2 separate regions of the Homo sapiens genome follow, and region 2 is linked to region 1. The links come from fine-mapping of genetic effects on gene expression. A gene starts in region 1. The other region holds a variant in brackets. All regions are shown on one strand. Distances are from middle to middle.

What was found.
Region 2: its variant is fine-mapped to the expression of CXCR1 in whole blood (INTERVAL, PIP above 0.99).

Annotation. Positions count from the first base shown.
Region 1 is chr2:218,161,903-218,170,426 of GRCh38, reverse strand. CXCR1 (C-X-C motif chemokine receptor 1) reads left to right here and starts at 3,465. Exons shown (of 2, transcript NM_000634.3): 1 at 3,465-3,519; 2 at 5,183-7,586. The coding sequence starts at 5,216. The coding sequence ends at 6,268.
Region 2 is chr2:218,121,845-218,129,844 of GRCh38, reverse strand. It overlaps CXCR2 (C-X-C motif chemokine receptor 2), which reads right to left and starts at 3,817. Exons shown (of 3, transcript NM_001557.4): 1 at 3,492-3,817; 2 at 480-531. The variant A/CAAAA (reference allele first, on the strand shown) is at 3,021.

The sequences.
Region 1 (8,524 bases):
CACTTTTCAAGGTCCTTCTCTGGCTTCCTCTGGAGACTGGAGATCAGGGCTGGGAGGTCTGCACCTGGCTAGGTCACGTGTCTGTCAATGCCCCTGTATCTTTACCACTGCAGCCTTGACCCAGTGTCTCACTGACACTACTCCCTGCTCCTCTCATCCTAGACCACATTTGGTTTCCAGAACTCTCACAGTTGGGCATGTTTTGGTTGCTGGTAACAGAAAAGTCAACTTAAACTGGTCTTAACAATAAAGACAATTTATTGGCTCATGGAACCGAAGAAAGTACAGAGAGAAGATGGCCTCTGGGCATGGTTTGTTCAGGACTCTTGGTCTGTTTCTCTGATTCTCTCAACTCTGCCTTCTTCTGTGTGTTGGTTTTTTCCTTGGACTGTTTTTGCCATTTATGGTAGCAAAATGGCTGCTGACTGCAACAAGACTATATACTTGCTTTTCCACATTCATTGAGCAAACATCTGAACTTTGCTCTGACTGGATCATCTTGGGTCACAGACTCACTCCCTGAGCCTGTTGCTGTGGTTACGAGGACGTCACTGGGGAGAGAGGAGAAACCTCCCTCTACCCCTTTCCTCTACTTTGATCCCAGATCCAAGTGGATTCTTCTGGAGGAATGAGAAGAGATGCTGAAGCTGGCATAAGGCTGATGCAGGGACAAAATAGATGTTCTTACAGCCACATTGTGCTGTTCACATGGTCTGTGCAGAAGTCATCATGTTTAAAACAGAGTGGTAAGAAGATGTCACCCAAAGAGATACTACATTTTGCCAGTTGACTGGCATTCGGGCTGCACCTGTCACAGCTTTCTTTGTGGCATTAGGAGCTCTACATGGAATGGAAAAATGCTTCTCAGCAGGAACATTCTAGGCCATTTTAAGAGGGCACAGTTATAAGTGGGAAGTGAGGTATAGAAGATAGGTTGGGTGGGCTGACTTGCTGGAACATTTTGAAGTGGGTAAAATTTTATTCTAAACTCATCTATATGTGCTTTCTCCCTCCTTCAGTGAAATGCTCGTCCTACTGCGAAGTGAAAGGTTCTTTCCACCCTTGTCCTCCAGATGCAACTTCTCCTGGAGACCCCAGCATTGCTGTTGCCCTCACCACACTCATGCAGCAGGGCTGCTCCCCTTCACTCCTCGGGCTCCAGGAGACCAGCCTCTTCCCTAACCCCTCAGTGATTCCTTGAAATAGACTGGAATAGTGAACCGACTTACTGAGGGTTTAGGAAAAGCAGAAGGGAACTATACACCAAGAAGAACTTAACATACGGTGTTAAATATACCTGCTCTTGGCCCTGGTCTTTCTCAAGGGGGTGTCTCACAGGGGATTCCCTGTCTAGCAACTGCTGCCCCCTTGTGGCAAAAACTATCCTTCTCCCGGCCTCAGGGTCTTTCTTGAGTATAGGCAGGTGTTTTGCAGTCTAGGCCCCCGTCTTTTTTCTCCTGTGTCCCCAGTGACTATTTTCTGCCCTTGGGGCTGATTTTCCCTAGATGATTAATAGAGGGAGTCTCCCACCTCCTGGGACTACCCCATCTTTGACTCCTTTCTAGTCTAGGCGTTAGAGCACAATAGTCCAACATCAGTAAAAGCAAAGCATGAGTGGCTATTGTCCCCTTACACTTCCTGTTACCATCTATGAATGATAAAAGAGCCCAGGAGGAAAGCACAACTTAGCTTAAAAAATAGGCTTGCCGGCTGGGCATGGTGGCTTATGCCTGTAATCCCAGTGCTTTGGGAGGCAAAGGCAGGAGGATCACTAGAGGCTAGGAGTTCAAGATAAGCCTGGGCAGTATATCAGGACCCTTTCTCTACAAATAAATAAATAACTAAATAAAAAATAAAAATAAAAATATAATATAAAAAAAGAAAGCCAGATGTAGTGGCTCTTGCCTGTAGTCCCAGCTATTCAGGAGGTTGAGGTGGGAGGATTGCTTGAGCCCAGGCATTTGAGGTTACACTGAGCTATGATCACACCACTGCATTCTAGCCTTGGCAACACAGTGAGAGCCTGTCTCTTAAAAAAAGAAAAAAATTCTTTCCAGTGCAGAACTGTAGGAATCCATGGCATGGTAAATTTGGCATTTGTGGTAGGGCAGGATTTATACTTGCACAGACTGGCATTAGCTCCAAACATTAGAGGAAGGTTGGAAAGAAGCAATGCCAGGCAGACCAACTGGGCTGTGTGGAAGTGAAGCTATCAGGCATACCAGTGACTTTAGTGTGTAGCCAAAAGCAATAGACACTGAATCGTGGTGGTGACTTATGGTCCATGAATCACAGGAGAAATGTCTCCCTTCATTTATTCCACAACCATTGATTGAGCACCTACTATATTCCCTGAAAGAGAACATAAACATGAATTGAAGAAGGTTCTTGCTGTCTCATGGCTCCCAAGCTAGAAGAGGGCTGACTTGTAAATGCCTCACAGCAGGGTTCATGTTATATGGAGAAGTGACGAAGGTGCCAGAAGACTCAAGCTAGGGGACAGCCATTAGCTGCTGGAGGCAGCTAAGGTGGGTTCCCAGAGAAGCCATTCTCCGTTACTGAGATGGGGGCTGCAGTGACCTTGACCACAGCTCTTCCATTCATGGACTGCCCCAGCTCTGTGGTCTCTCTGCTAACCAGCCAGACTCTGGGAGTGGCCTATGCCGTCAGCCTCAGGGCCATTTAAACCAACTGGTCATTGGCAGTGATTGTGCGAAAGAGTGGCTGGCGGCAAAGGAGGGTTTGTGTTCCATTCAAATACCCTCAAAAAGCCTGAAAAATAAGTAGAGATTGAGGCCAGGCCTTGGAGTTGTGGAAGGTGGAGAACACTGGGAAGCCAACCTCCAAAGAAGACCAGGTTGGAGGCAAAGGAGGAAGGGGAGCTCTCGTTGGCAAACCAACAGGGAAGCCAAGGATATCCCAGTAACTGCTCTCACATCCTTGATGAGAATGCCTTGAATCCGAGCTAGGCCACCTCAAAGAAGCCTGCAAAATAAGTAGAGATTGAGTGCCTGCTGTTCAAACACAACTCAAGCGCAGTCCTCCTCCTCTTTCCCACTGGATTGCCCCCAAGTCCCTCCTATGGGGGACTCCTTCTGAAGTCTCTGCTGTAAGTCAAATCCTTCGCCCTTTATACTTGGTCAGGAAGTTGCAAGCTTCCACAGGTGATATACTAGGGAATTTAGGAATAAACAAATGGAAATAAATTCAAGAAAAGGAAAATAATAAAAATGATCATCCATAGAGTGGAGAATTCAGATAATGGACCCTCAACCCCAGCTTCACACCTGGGACCCCCACTTGGTCATATGGACCCTGGCAGTCTCTAATCACAAGTCTGTGATCCCTTGACTTAAACTGTTCTTCCCCAAATGTAGACATGGGTGGGGCTCAGAAGGGAGGTGTCATCTGATGTGGTTTCCTTATTTCCGTTTATTCATCAAGTGCCCTCTAGCTGTTAAGTCACTCTGATCTCTGACTGCAGCTCCTACTGTTGGACACACCTGGCCGGTGCTTCAGGTAGGAAGCCACCTCTGTTTGCTAGGACTTTCTGTGGGGTAGGGCTGCTTGGCTTGACTTTATTTTGGAAAATGTATTCATTTCTGTGGGAGCTGAGGATTTCTGCTGCCCGCTTCCTCTCTTGTGACCACCACTCATACATGGAGTTAGCAGGTGAAGAGGACAGCCTCCTCATCCCCTCTTTTTATACCTTGCCCTTTTGTGGGAAGAGGCTGACCATTCCCCAATTTGATGTTTATTGCTTCACCTTAAGACTTTGTCTTCAGTGAAAATGCAAATACTGGTAGGGAGGGAACACACTAAAATGTGTGGATCTGAGTGGACTCATCATACACCCTCAGGCCTGGCAGCAAATGAGAGGTGGATGATTCTGTCTTCCTCGATTTGCAGATGAGAAGACTGAAATCTATAGGGGTACGAGACCCCACTCAAGGTCATGAGACTTATTTATTTATTTATTTATTTATTTTGAGATGGAGTCTCACTCTGTCGCCTAGGCTGTAGTACTGTGGCACGATCTCGGCTCACTGCAACCTCCATTTCCCGGGTTCAAGTGATTCTCCTGCCTCAGCCTCCTGAGTAGTTGGGATTACAGGTGCACGCCACCACACCCAGCTAATTTTTTTGTATTTTTAGTAGAGACGGGGTTTCATCATTTTGGTCAGGCTGGTCTCGAACTCCTGACTTCATGATCTGCCTGCCTTGGCCTCCCAAAGGGCTGGGATTACACACGAAACTTATTAATGGTAGAATCAGGATGGAATGAAGACTGGATGCTAGGTGTCTTTACAACCAACCTCGGTGACTTTCCAAAGGCTTTCAGACTTCTCTGGAGAGTCCTGGAGCTTTGAGGGGCTCTTTAGGGGCCATCTGGGTTCGGAGATTAGCACACTCTGCCCCACAGTGGCTCAGCTTTTATCTGCTTCACATACTGGGCTTCTGGGAAGATCTTATTTCAGTAAACTATTTCACAATAGGAAATATATTTGAAAACTCTTGAATGATTCTGTGGATTTTTTCAGGGGTGGAGGGTTTCAGGGACCAAGATGGAGACTTTATCTTCTCAAATACTTAAAACTCCTTTAGACAGAGGAACAAAATATGTGCTCCTCATTTAAAGAAGGCTTAAAATATACAGTTTAATGCAATGTGTTGTTATCACTTCCTTCCCCCAGTAGATTTTAAGGAGGGTAAACAAGAATCAGGGAGAACATAGGAATAGAAATAGTAGAAGGGGACACCTGGGAACAGGTTTGCCTTCTTGCATTTTGCTTAATGCTGGCCCTTCCCTGAATGTCTAAGACCAACCTGGTCCCCACATCCAAATGCACAGACACAGCTGAGGATGGAGAAGGCTAAAGAGGGACAGAGGTAGAGACATAGGCTGAGAGGAGGCAGTTGTAGGTTGAGCTAGGGCTAAGGTGTTTTCCCCATATTCCATCTTACCCCACACTCAGGCCAGGCCTTAGAGTTGTGGAAGGTGGAGAACACTGGGAAGCCAACCTCCGAAGAAGACCAGGTTGGAGTCAAAGGAGGAAGGAGAGCTCTCATTGCCAAACCAACAGGGAAGCCAAGGATATCCCAGTAACTGCTCTCACATCATTGATGAGAATGCCTTGAATCCGAGCTACTAAATCACATTTCCTTCCTTCTAACCTTCCAGTTAGATCAAACCATTGCTGAAACTGAAGAGGACATGTCAAATATTACAGATCCACAGATGTGGGATTTTGATGATCTAAATTTCACTGGCATGCCACCTGCAGATGAAGATTACAGCCCCTGTATGCTAGAAACTGAGACACTCAACAAGTATGTTGTGATCATCGCCTATGCCCTAGTGTTCCTGCTGAGCCTGCTGGGAAACTCCCTGGTGATGCTGGTCATCTTATACAGCAGGGTCGGCCGCTCCGTCACTGATGTCTACCTGCTGAACCTGGCCTTGGCCGACCTACTCTTTGCCCTGACCTTGCCCATCTGGGCCGCCTCCAAGGTGAATGGCTGGATTTTTGGCACATTCCTGTGCAAGGTGGTCTCACTCCTGAAGGAAGTCAACTTCTACAGTGGCATCCTGCTGTTGGCCTGCATCAGTGTGGACCGTTACCTGGCCATTGTCCATGCCACACGCACACTGACCCAGAAGCGTCACTTGGTCAAGTTTGTTTGTCTTGGCTGCTGGGGACTGTCTATGAATCTGTCCCTGCCCTTCTTCCTTTTCCGCCAGGCTTACCATCCAAACAATTCCAGTCCAGTTTGCTATGAGGTCCTGGGAAATGACACAGCAAAATGGCGGATGGTGTTGCGGATCCTGCCTCACACCTTTGGCTTCATCGTGCCGCTGTTTGTCATGCTGTTCTGCTATGGATTCACCCTGCGTACACTGTTTAAGGCCCACATGGGGCAGAAGCACCGAGCCATGAGGGTCATCTTTGCTGTCGTCCTCATCTTCCTGCTTTGCTGGCTGCCCTACAACCTGGTCCTGCTGGCAGACACCCTCATGAGGACCCAGGTGATCCAGGAGAGCTGTGAGCGCCGCAACAACATCGGCCGGGCCCTGGATGCCACTGAGATTCTGGGATTTCTCCATAGCTGCCTCAACCCCATCATCTACGCCTTCATCGGCCAAAATTTTCGCCATGGATTCCTCAAGATCCTGGCTATGCATGGCCTGGTCAGCAAGGAGTTCTTGGCACGTCATCGTGTTACCTCCTACACTTCTTCGTCTGTCAATGTCTCTTCCAACCTCTGAAAACCATCGATGAAGGAATATCTCTTCTCAGAAGGAAAGAATAACCAACACCCTGAGGTTGTGTGTGGAAGGTGATCTGGCTCTGGACAGGCACTATCTGGGTTTTGGGGGGACGCTATAGGATGTGGGGAAGTTAGGAACTGGTGTCTTCAGGGGCCACACCAACCTTCTGAGGAGCTGTTGAGGTACCTCCAAGGACCGGCCTTTGCACCTCCATGGAAACGAAGCACCATCATTCCCGTTGAACGTCACATCTTTAACCCACTAACTGGCTAATTAGCATGGCCACATCTGAGCCCCGAATCTGACATTAGATGAGAGAACAGGGCTGAAGCTGTGTCCTCATGAGGGCTGGATGCTCTCGTTGACCCTCACAGGAGCATCTCCTCAACTCTGAGTGTTAAGCGTTGAGCCACCAAGCTGGTGGCTCTGTGTGCTCTGATCCGAGCTCAGGGGGGTGGTTTTCCCATCTCAGGTGTGTTGCAGTGTCTGCTGGAGACATTGAGGCAGGCACTGCCAAAACATCAACCTGCCAGCTGGCCTTGTGAGGAGCTGGAAACACATGTTCCCCTTGGGGGTGGTGGATGAACAAAGAGAAAGAGGGTTTGGAAGCCAGATCTATGCCACAAGAACCCCCTTTACCCCCATGACCAACATCGCAGACACATGTGCTGGCCACCTGCTGAGCCCCAAGTGGAACGAGACAAGCAGCCCTTAGCCCTTCCCCTCTGCAGCTTCCAGGCTGGCGTGCAGCATCAGCATCCCTAGAAAGCCATGTGCAGCCACCAGTCCATTGGGCAGGCAGATGTTCCTAATAAAGCTTCTGTTCCGTGCTTGTCCCTGTGGAAGTATCTTGGTTGTGACAGAGTCAAGGGTGTGTGCAGCATTGTTGGCTGTTCCTGCAGTAGAATGGGGGCAGCACCTCCTAAGAAGGCACCTCTCTGGGTTGAAGGGCAGTGTTCCCTGGGGCTTTAACTCCTGCTAGAACAGTCTCTTGAGGCACAGAAACTCCTGTTCATGCCCATACCCCTGGCCAAGGAAGATCCCTTTGTCCACAAGTAAAAGGAAATGCTCCTCCAGGGAGTCTCAGCTTCACCCTGAGGTGAGCATCATCTTCTGGGTTAGGCCTTGCCTAGGCATAGCCCTGCCTCAAGCTATGTGAGCTCACCAGTCCCTCCCCAAATGCTTTCCATGAGTTGCAGTTTTTTCCTAGTCTGTTTTCCCTCCTTGGAGACAGGGCCCTGTCGGTTTATTCACTGTATGTCCTTGGTGCCTGGAGCCTACTAAATGCTCAATAAATAATGATCACAGGAATGAATGCATGCTGAAAAGACCACTCTTTTGCACACCATCTGCTCAAAGCTCCTCTTGTCTGTCCTCTCCGCTTTCAGCCTCCGTCTGTCCACTTATTAAGTTTGCCTTTGTGGTTTAGCTTCATTAGATGTTTATCTGTGTAAAAATGTCCCAAGTGAGGACTTAAGATGTCAGGGCTCTTCTGATGGCAAATGATAGAAAGAGAAGTCAAACTAGCTTAAGCAAAACTGAGAGTGTGGGTTTAGCCTGTGTGGGGAAGGATCAGGGAAGGCTTGAGGTTGGGAATAGGGTGAGGCTCAGAGACAGGACCTAGATCAAGCTTCAGATGGGGATCAGTGATTGATGTTGAAATCAAAGCTGGGATGGGGGCAGGGATGGGGTGGCAGCTTGGGATGAGGTCAGAGAAGGATGAATGCCAGGAATCGGTAGAGATCTACAAGGAGGGAGAGTGAGAGTCAGGGTCACAGTGAGGTGTTGGGAACAGGGAGATTCAACATGGAGCTGGGACCAGATATGGAGAGTGAGACTTTGGAATGGGATAAGTGTGGGGGAGTGGTGAGGCTCAGGGAGGGGGTGTCAGGCCTGGAATGAATATCAGGGAAGGCTTAGTAGCTATAAGGCTGGAGCAGAAGACGTGCCTGGTAGGGTCACCATCCTATCTGGAGCATCATCTAAGATCCTCTTCCGGGGCCAAAAGACAGAGGCTCCTCAGTCTGTCCTGCTTAAGACTCTCCAGGCAGGTGAGTGAGGAGGGAGTTAGGCACTCGAGCCCTAAGAGATAGACCTGATTCAGCAGAGAAGACAAGAAGGATGCAAAGGATGCACAGAGAATCTAGGGCAGAAGGCTGAGAACTGGGGCCTCCTTTTCCTCTCCTCCCTCCGCTGATCTCCCTCCACCTCTCCTACTGTTTCCTCAAAGTCCAACTTCCTCCTTCTTCACCT
Region 2 (8,000 bases), 40 kb after region 1:
AAAATGCTATAGAACGAGAGACATTTACAAGATCTCAAACATCTAAGGCAATCTTTTTAACAACAAAAGAGTCATTTTAGTACAGTTCCAGTATTCTTTCTCTCTATAAATATAATCCACAAATATTGCATTTAGTGTCGGGAAGTGGGAAGCGAACAGTGTTCGGCCCATCCTCAGACCCAGTCCTAGCCCAGGCCAGGAGGGCTGGCTGAGTCTTGGAAGGCTGCCAGGCCAAGGGAAAAGCATGGGCAGCAAGTGGCCCTGAGTGGTTGGAGAGGGTTGTGAGGGAGGAGGAACAGAAGTTCTTCCTTTGGGGATGGAGAGCCCCAAAGGGAGAAAATGAAGAGGCCAAGGGGTGAGGGTGAGGGGCCCACCAAGGGTGGGGAGAGATGCTTAGGATAAATGTAGGCTGGGTATCAAGGGAAACAGAGAACAGAGACATTCTAGCTGGTGGGAAGGGTGGGTGTTCCAAGACTTACTGGGTCGCTGGGCTTTTCACCTGTAGGACACCTCCAGAAGAGCAGCTGTGACCTATGAAAGGGAGGTGGTGGTGAGAACACAGTGGAGGAAGTGAGTGGTAGATTAGATTGCTCAATGCAATTCAGGGGTGGAGCTCCTGAGGGTGCGGGTGATTTTGATAACTTTGAATAATTAGTTCCCAGATCAGCTCTCGGATGCATAGTCATTTCATAGACTCGTAGAGTTTATATTGGGAAGGGACCTGAGGGGTTTTCTACCTAGTCTTTCCATTTTACAGATGGGGAAACTGAAGCCCAAAGGAAATGGCTTGCCCAGGATTGCATGGATTTCTTTCATCTTTGCTGTATCTCAGAGCCGCTGGCTCCTTCAGCTGCCTTGTCTGAGTCTCCTGGCATTCCAGCTGCCTCAGGCTTCCCCATCATACCATTGGCAGTACTATAGCCTTCAATGTCTTTCACATGTCAAAGGGAGCAGTGCATTAAAATGACAGAGATGGACTAAAGCTTCTGGTGAGTCTGGTGGCGTTCCTCCCTGGACCTGATGCCTCTACTTCTTGGCCCCACTCCTGCCTCTTGTCTTTCCCCTCACTCCCCAACCATCTGCTCTGACCACAAGTCCATCTCTGGGTATTGATATTCTTTCTTGTTTCGCACACTTGGCATTGGGTCTGAGGACACCAACTCTGCAGCAGCTTACCACCCTTGGAGCCAAGACCCTCTAATTTGGAAAGAAAGCCTTTTGGTAAAAGGGAAGATTCCACCAAAGTCCAAATGCATTTTTAAAAACAATGTTAAGTGACCCTAAGAATGTATTTTATCAATTTGCTATTGATTACAAATGAATGAATTAATCCAGGCAGAGCCATGAACACTAATTCTGCTGTCTCACAAGTGCCCACCCCAGTGAACAACACCTCAATCCCCTCCATTATTCCTTACCCTATCTCTTGCTCCATGCATCCCAGGGCCCAGAGGGGACTCAATCCCTGTGGCAGACGCACTTAAATTGCCTGCCTACCCCAAAGAAAGAATCTTTGAGTCCAACTGTTCAGCAAATGTTTCTTAGTCTTTGTCACCTCTCTTTCCCAAGCTGGGGAAGAATGCAATGCCACCTGGCCAGTTGATGCTAAAACCAGATAGAGGCTTATTACATATGGAGAGAGGCAGATGACACCAGGGCTAGCTGAGCAATTCTGGGCAAGTGACTTTTCCTTTCTGAGTCTCAGTTTACTCATCTGTAAAATGGGGCCAATACAGAATCCAACTCATGGGGTTGTGGTGAGGATGAAATGAGGGATTGCTTGTAAATCACGTAAAACATACATAAAGTACAATGTTAACCTTTATTGTTGTGATCATTATTACTGGAATAGTTTATTCACTGATAACATGCTGCCTCTCTCACTACATCCCCAGTCAAGGGAAAGCAGTCGGCAGTGGGTCTGCTTTCAAGGCTGACTTTGATGACATCTAATTTACTTTGACCTGGATATTAATTGTCATATTAGCTGTAATGTTGAGTGTCTACCAGGTTCTAGCTTCTGGGCAAAGTGCTTTCCAGAATTTGTATCAATTAATCCTCAGGATAACCTCACGAAGCAGGCACTTTCTGGAAGAGGAAATGAAGACTCTGAGAGGTTAAGCAACATACCTAGAGTGACACAGCTGAACTAGGTTTTCAGTTTAAAAAACTTCTAAAAATCTGCTCTCAAATCCTATCTCCTGTTCACTGTAATAAGGAGCAGGATCCCAGCCTAAAGTTTCTGAGCTCCATTAGGTACCTCCCTGTGTCCCAGAAAGTCAGATACAAAGGATGTAGAGAGGGGAGCCCAGATTTGACATTTCCCAGTCAGCCTCCTTCTTCATGCTCCTTAGGTCAATTTCATTTCCATGGAGATCACTGCGGTTATATGCAGGGTGGAGTGAATTAAAAAACTGGCTTCTGGTGCGGTGGCTCATGCCTGTAATCCCAGCACTTTGGGAGGCTGAGGTGAGTGGATCACTCGAGGCCAGGAGTTACAGAACAGCCTGGCCAACATGGTGAAACCCCGCCTCTATTAAAAATGCAAAAATTAGCCAGGCGTGGCAGCGCACGCCTGTAATCCCAGCTACTCCAGAGGCTGAGGCATAAGAATTGCTTGAACTCGGGAGGCAGAAGTTGCAGTGAGCCGAGATTGTGCCATTGCATTCCAGCCTGGGCGACAGAGCAAAACCCTGTCTCAAACAAAAACAAAACAAAAACCTGGCTTCTAATCCTGCTTGGAGAAGTCATTCTTTCTGGGCCTTGTTGTGTGCCTTTGGAAAACGGGAGCTTCTTCTAATTCTATTCTGTTCAGCATGCTAGCTACTAGCCATGTGTAGCTATTTAAATTAAAATTAATTAAAATAAAGGCCAGGCAAGGTGGCCCATGCCTGTAATCCCAGCACTTTGGGAGGCCGAGGTGGGCGGATCGCTTGAGCCCAGGAGTTTGAGATCAGCCTGGGCAACATGACGAAACCCTGTCTTTACAAAAACAAAAACAAAACAAACAAACAAACAAA[A/CAAAA]CCCAAAAAATTAGCTGAGTGTAGCGGCACATGCCTGTAGCTGCAGCTACTTGGGAGGCTGAGGTGGGAGAATCACCTAGACCTGTAGGTTGAGGTTGCAATGAGCCAAGATCATGCCACAGCACTCCAGCCTGGGCATTGGAGTGAGAGCCTGTCTCAAAAAAGAAAAAATAAAATAAAATAAAATGAAATAAAAATTGAGATCCGCAGTCACACTAGTCACATTTCAAGTGCTCCGTGGCCACGTGTGACTAGTGGCTACCATACTGGGCAGGGCAGGTCTAGGACATTTCTATTATTGCAGAAAATTCTTTTGTGCAACACTGTCTAGGTGAAGACTTAGTTGTCTTTAGCTCTAAGCTTCTACACTTCATCACCCCAGTTCTCAGGGGCCTCAGAGGAGGCTGAAGTTTCCAGATCTCTTCCATTAGAAATATGTTGCCAGCATCTCAGACTGAACAAGTCACCTACCTGCTGTTATTGGAGTGGCCACCGATGTCTTCACTGTGCCTCAAGGTTGGGTGGTAGTCAGAGCTGTTAGACAGGAAAAAAAAGATGAAACAACCTTGACGATGAAACTTCTGACCTGGGTTGCAAGGGGGAAATCCAGGATGCCCTCCTGGGGAGGTATTCCCACAGAGGAACAATGAGGTCTGTCCTGGGACTTTGGCCCAGGACAGGTGCCACTTAGTGATTCTGGGATGAGTGCTGGGGATTTTCACATCTTCCTGTCTGATGGCTTCTGGAGGAGCCTACCAGTCTGAAGGTGGAGATTTGTCTATCCACCTTCTGTCTCTGAATGTTTTGAACCTGCACTTCCTTTTTTAACAAGGAAGATGCAGGCATCCCAGCCCCCGCCAACGGACTTGTCTGAACTCGCACGCAGTTTCTTCCTTCTTTCCGGGGTCAGAGTGAGAAGCGTCCCTCCTTCTGTTTCTGTTGAATCCCCGCACCTGACTGTGGGACCCACTGCCTCTCTGGTCCTTGAGGATCCTGCTTTCTCTCCCCTCTGTCCTGGCTCTTTCCCTTCTACCACATCTTACTTATGGCTTTATCATGCTCCCTCTGTCCTAGCACCCTTCAGCCACCACAGCTGCTCTCTCCACTTCCTCACCTCCCCTCTGCTGCTCAACAAAGACACTGCAACTGGCTTCCTTCCTACTGCTCCACTGAAATAACTTTCGCCAAGGTTCCCAATGACCTCTGGGTTACTAAACCCAGCAAATCCATTAAAAAAAAAAACAAAAACAAATTGCTTTCTTTCCCCCCAAGACAACAGATTGGAGGCAGCATTAGCATGCCTCTCCCATCTGGAAGGACAGAATAGCGTGTAGAGATTCACACTATAATTTTTTTTTCTCCAGGAACGAATGCAGGAACTGAACAGGAAAGCTGAAAGAATCCACAGAACTTTTGAAAGAAGTGGCAGGCTGCAGCCTACTCTGTGAGACAGGCAAAAACTCACCTCTAGGCAGAATAGCACTGTACCCAGGAAGGAGAAAACGGCTGCATATTCTCAGCTATCACCACTGCTTACAACACCCTGGCTAACCAGAAGTCCTGCGTCTGTCCACGTGATAAGTTCACTATAATTATAACCAGCATTTGAGAAAGTCAATACTCTAAGTCTATCTACAACCAAGGAATCTTGCAGAGTTTGCATCACTCCCCTCCCACTTCTGTCAGAGATGGTGCTGGTATTCACTGCTGGGAGTCTTGAAGACAGGTAACACCACTGGATCCCTTGCAGACATTCCCTAGCACCAGCCCAGAGTCTGGTAGGCCCACTGGGTGGCTAGACCCAGAAGAGCACTGTAGTCTGGCTTCCAGGAAGTCCCATTCCTAGAGGAAGGGGAAGAACATCACATCAAGGGAATACCCTGTGGAACAAAAGAATCTGAATGGCAGGGCTTGAGTCCCAGATCTTTTCACTGGTGGGAAGTTTCCTATTGCAGAGACAATTGCTGTGCTGGGCAGAGTGGGGGAAAGTTTGCACCTCTACCCAATAGGCAGGCAGCCTCTGGTATTGTGAAGGGTCTTAGAGAAGGGATCCTTGTTCCCCCTGGTACGCCACTGCAGACAGAGCTGGGGCTTCTCCCAAAGGAACGCAGCATTGATGCACCTATAGACAGCCTTCCTGGAACAAATCAGGGTGATTGCATCCCCACGGGAGGAGCACTCCCCAGATTCAGGTTTGCATGACAGGCAGTCACAATTCCTCTCTACTTGGAACATCAACATTTCTACAGATGAAAATAACTGCCTGTCTGATCTGAATAGCTGGAACACTGGGAAAGGAGTGAAGCTGGGAGGTGGATAGCTTTCCAGCTGGCCTAGTGGGGGACCTGAGGTAGCTCCTACCCTTCACCCTGACAAAACCTCAGCACATCTAATTGAGAGCTCTCCCAGGCACTCTCATCAAGGCTGGGATCTCTGCCCACCTGCTTTAGCTACAACCGGTGCCTACCCACCTACTTTAGCTACATCTGGTGCCTACCCAGGGATACTTCCCCTACTGGTCCAAAGCCTGAATCAACTCAGTAAGTAAAATACTGGGGAAAAATTAAATAAATAAATAAAGAGTACCCCACGAGAGAATGAGGTAAGCTTAAAGAGATTCCTGCCATTCCAACCCTGTAGGAGACAGTAAACCTTCCCACACACCAAGTACGTAACTGCTACAACCAGGATCTGGGAAAGCCAGCACACAAGGACTGTCTCTAACTAACGAACTCATACAGAGTCTTCACTCCTAAAATCCAAAAGTCTTCACTCCTAAAAACCAAGGATCAAATTAGGCTAAAATAAACTATAAATATTAAAGTCAGATCCTTAAGAGGGAAGAAAAAGAAATAAAAAAAAAACATAGTTGCTGGGCGTGGTGGCTCACGCCTGTAATCCCAGCATTTTGGGAAGCTGAGGCTGGCAGATCACCTAAGGTCAGGAGTTCAAGACCAGATTGACCAACATGGAGAAATCCTGTCTCTACTAAAAATACAAAATTAGCCGGGTGTGCTGGTACATGCCTGTAATCCCAGCTACTCGGGAGGCTGAGACAGGAGAATCACTCGAATCGGGGAGGTGGAGGTCACAGTGAGCCGAGATCAGACATTGCACTCCAGCCTGGGTAACAAGAGCGAAACTCCATCTCAAAAAAAAAAAAAAAGTCAAATCAAAAATAAATTCAAGAATAACTTGAAGAAATAGTCTACCCAAATGAGAAGGAACCAGAAAAGTAATTCTGGCAATATGACAAAACAGGGTTCTGTAACACCCCCAAAAGATCACACTAACTTTCCAGCAATAAATCCAAACCAAGATGAAATTTTTGTAATACCAGACAAAGAATTCAGAAGGTTGATTATTATTATTATTATTATTGTTATTATTATTATTAATAATATTTTGGGACAGATTTTCACTCTTGTTGCTCAGGCTAGAGTGCAATGGTGTGATCTCGGCTCACTGCAACTTCTGCCTCCCGGGCCCAAGTGATTCTCCTGCCTCAGCCTCCTGAATAGCTGGGATTACAGGCATGTGACACCATGCCCAACTAATTTTTGTATTTTTAGTAGAGATGGGGTTTCACCATGTTGACCAGGCTGGTCTCGAACTCCTGGCCTGAAATGATCTGCCTGCCTCGGCCTCCCACAATGCTGGGATTGCAGATGTGAACCACTGTGCCCGGCCCAGAAGGTTGATCATTAATTACTTAAGGAGATACCAGAGAAAAGTAAAAACCAACATAAAGAAATTTAAAAAAACCAATTCAGGATATGAATGAAAAAATTTCTGGAGGGTATATATCGTAAAGAAAAACTAATCAAAACTTCTGGAAATGAAAGCATACTTAGGGAATACAAAATGTGGTGGAAAGTTTCAACAATAGACTAGAACAATTAGAAGAAAAAATTTCAGAGCTTAAAGACAAGGCATTTGAATTAACCCAATCAGACAAAGATAAAAAAAAAAGACCAAAAGAAATGAACAAAGTCCCCAAGAAATATAAAATTATGTAAAACAGCCAAACTTGAGAATAATTGGTATTCCTGAGGGAGAAGATAAGTCTAAAAGTTTGAAAAACGTGTTTGAGGGAATAATTGAGGAAAGCTTCCCTGACCTTGCTAGAGATCTAGATACCCAAATATAAGAAGCTCAAAGAACTTCTGGGAAATTCATTACAAAAAGATTATCACCTAGCCACATAGTCATTAGGTTATCTGAAGTCAACAAGAAGGAAAGAATTTTAAGAACTGTGTGACAAAAACATCAGGTAACCTATAAAGGAAAACCTGTCAGACTAACAGCAGATTTCTCACAGAAACCTTGCAAGCCAGAAGGGATTGGGGTCCTATCTTTACCTTCCTTAAACAAAATAATTGTCAGCCAAGAATTTTGTATCCAGCAAAACTAAGCTTCATAAATGAAGGAGAGATAAAGTCTTTTTTCAGACAAACAAATGCTGAGAGAAATTGCCACTACTAAACCAGCATTATCAGAAATGCTAAAAAGAGTTTTAAATATTTAAACAAAAGCTTTATGTGCACCAAATTAGAACTTCCTTAAAGCATAAATCTCACAGGGCCTATAAAACAATAACACAATGAAAAAAACAAAGTATCTAGGTAACAACTAATATGATGAATAGAACACTAACTCACATTGAGAGGTGAAGCCAGCTGGATTTTTGGGTCGGGTGGGGACTTGGAGAACTTTTCTGTCTAACTAAAGGATTGTAAACACAGCAATCAGTGCTCTGTGTCTAGCTAAAGGTTTGTAAATGCACCAATCAGCACTCTGTAAAAATGGACCAACCAGCACTCTGTAAAATGGACCAATCAGCAGGACATGGGCAGGGCCAAATAAGGAAATAAAAACTGGCCACCTGAGCCAGCAGCGGCAACCTGCTCGGGTCCCTTTCCATGCTGTGGAAGCTTTGTTTTCTCACTCTTCACAATAAATCTTGCTGCTGCTCACTCT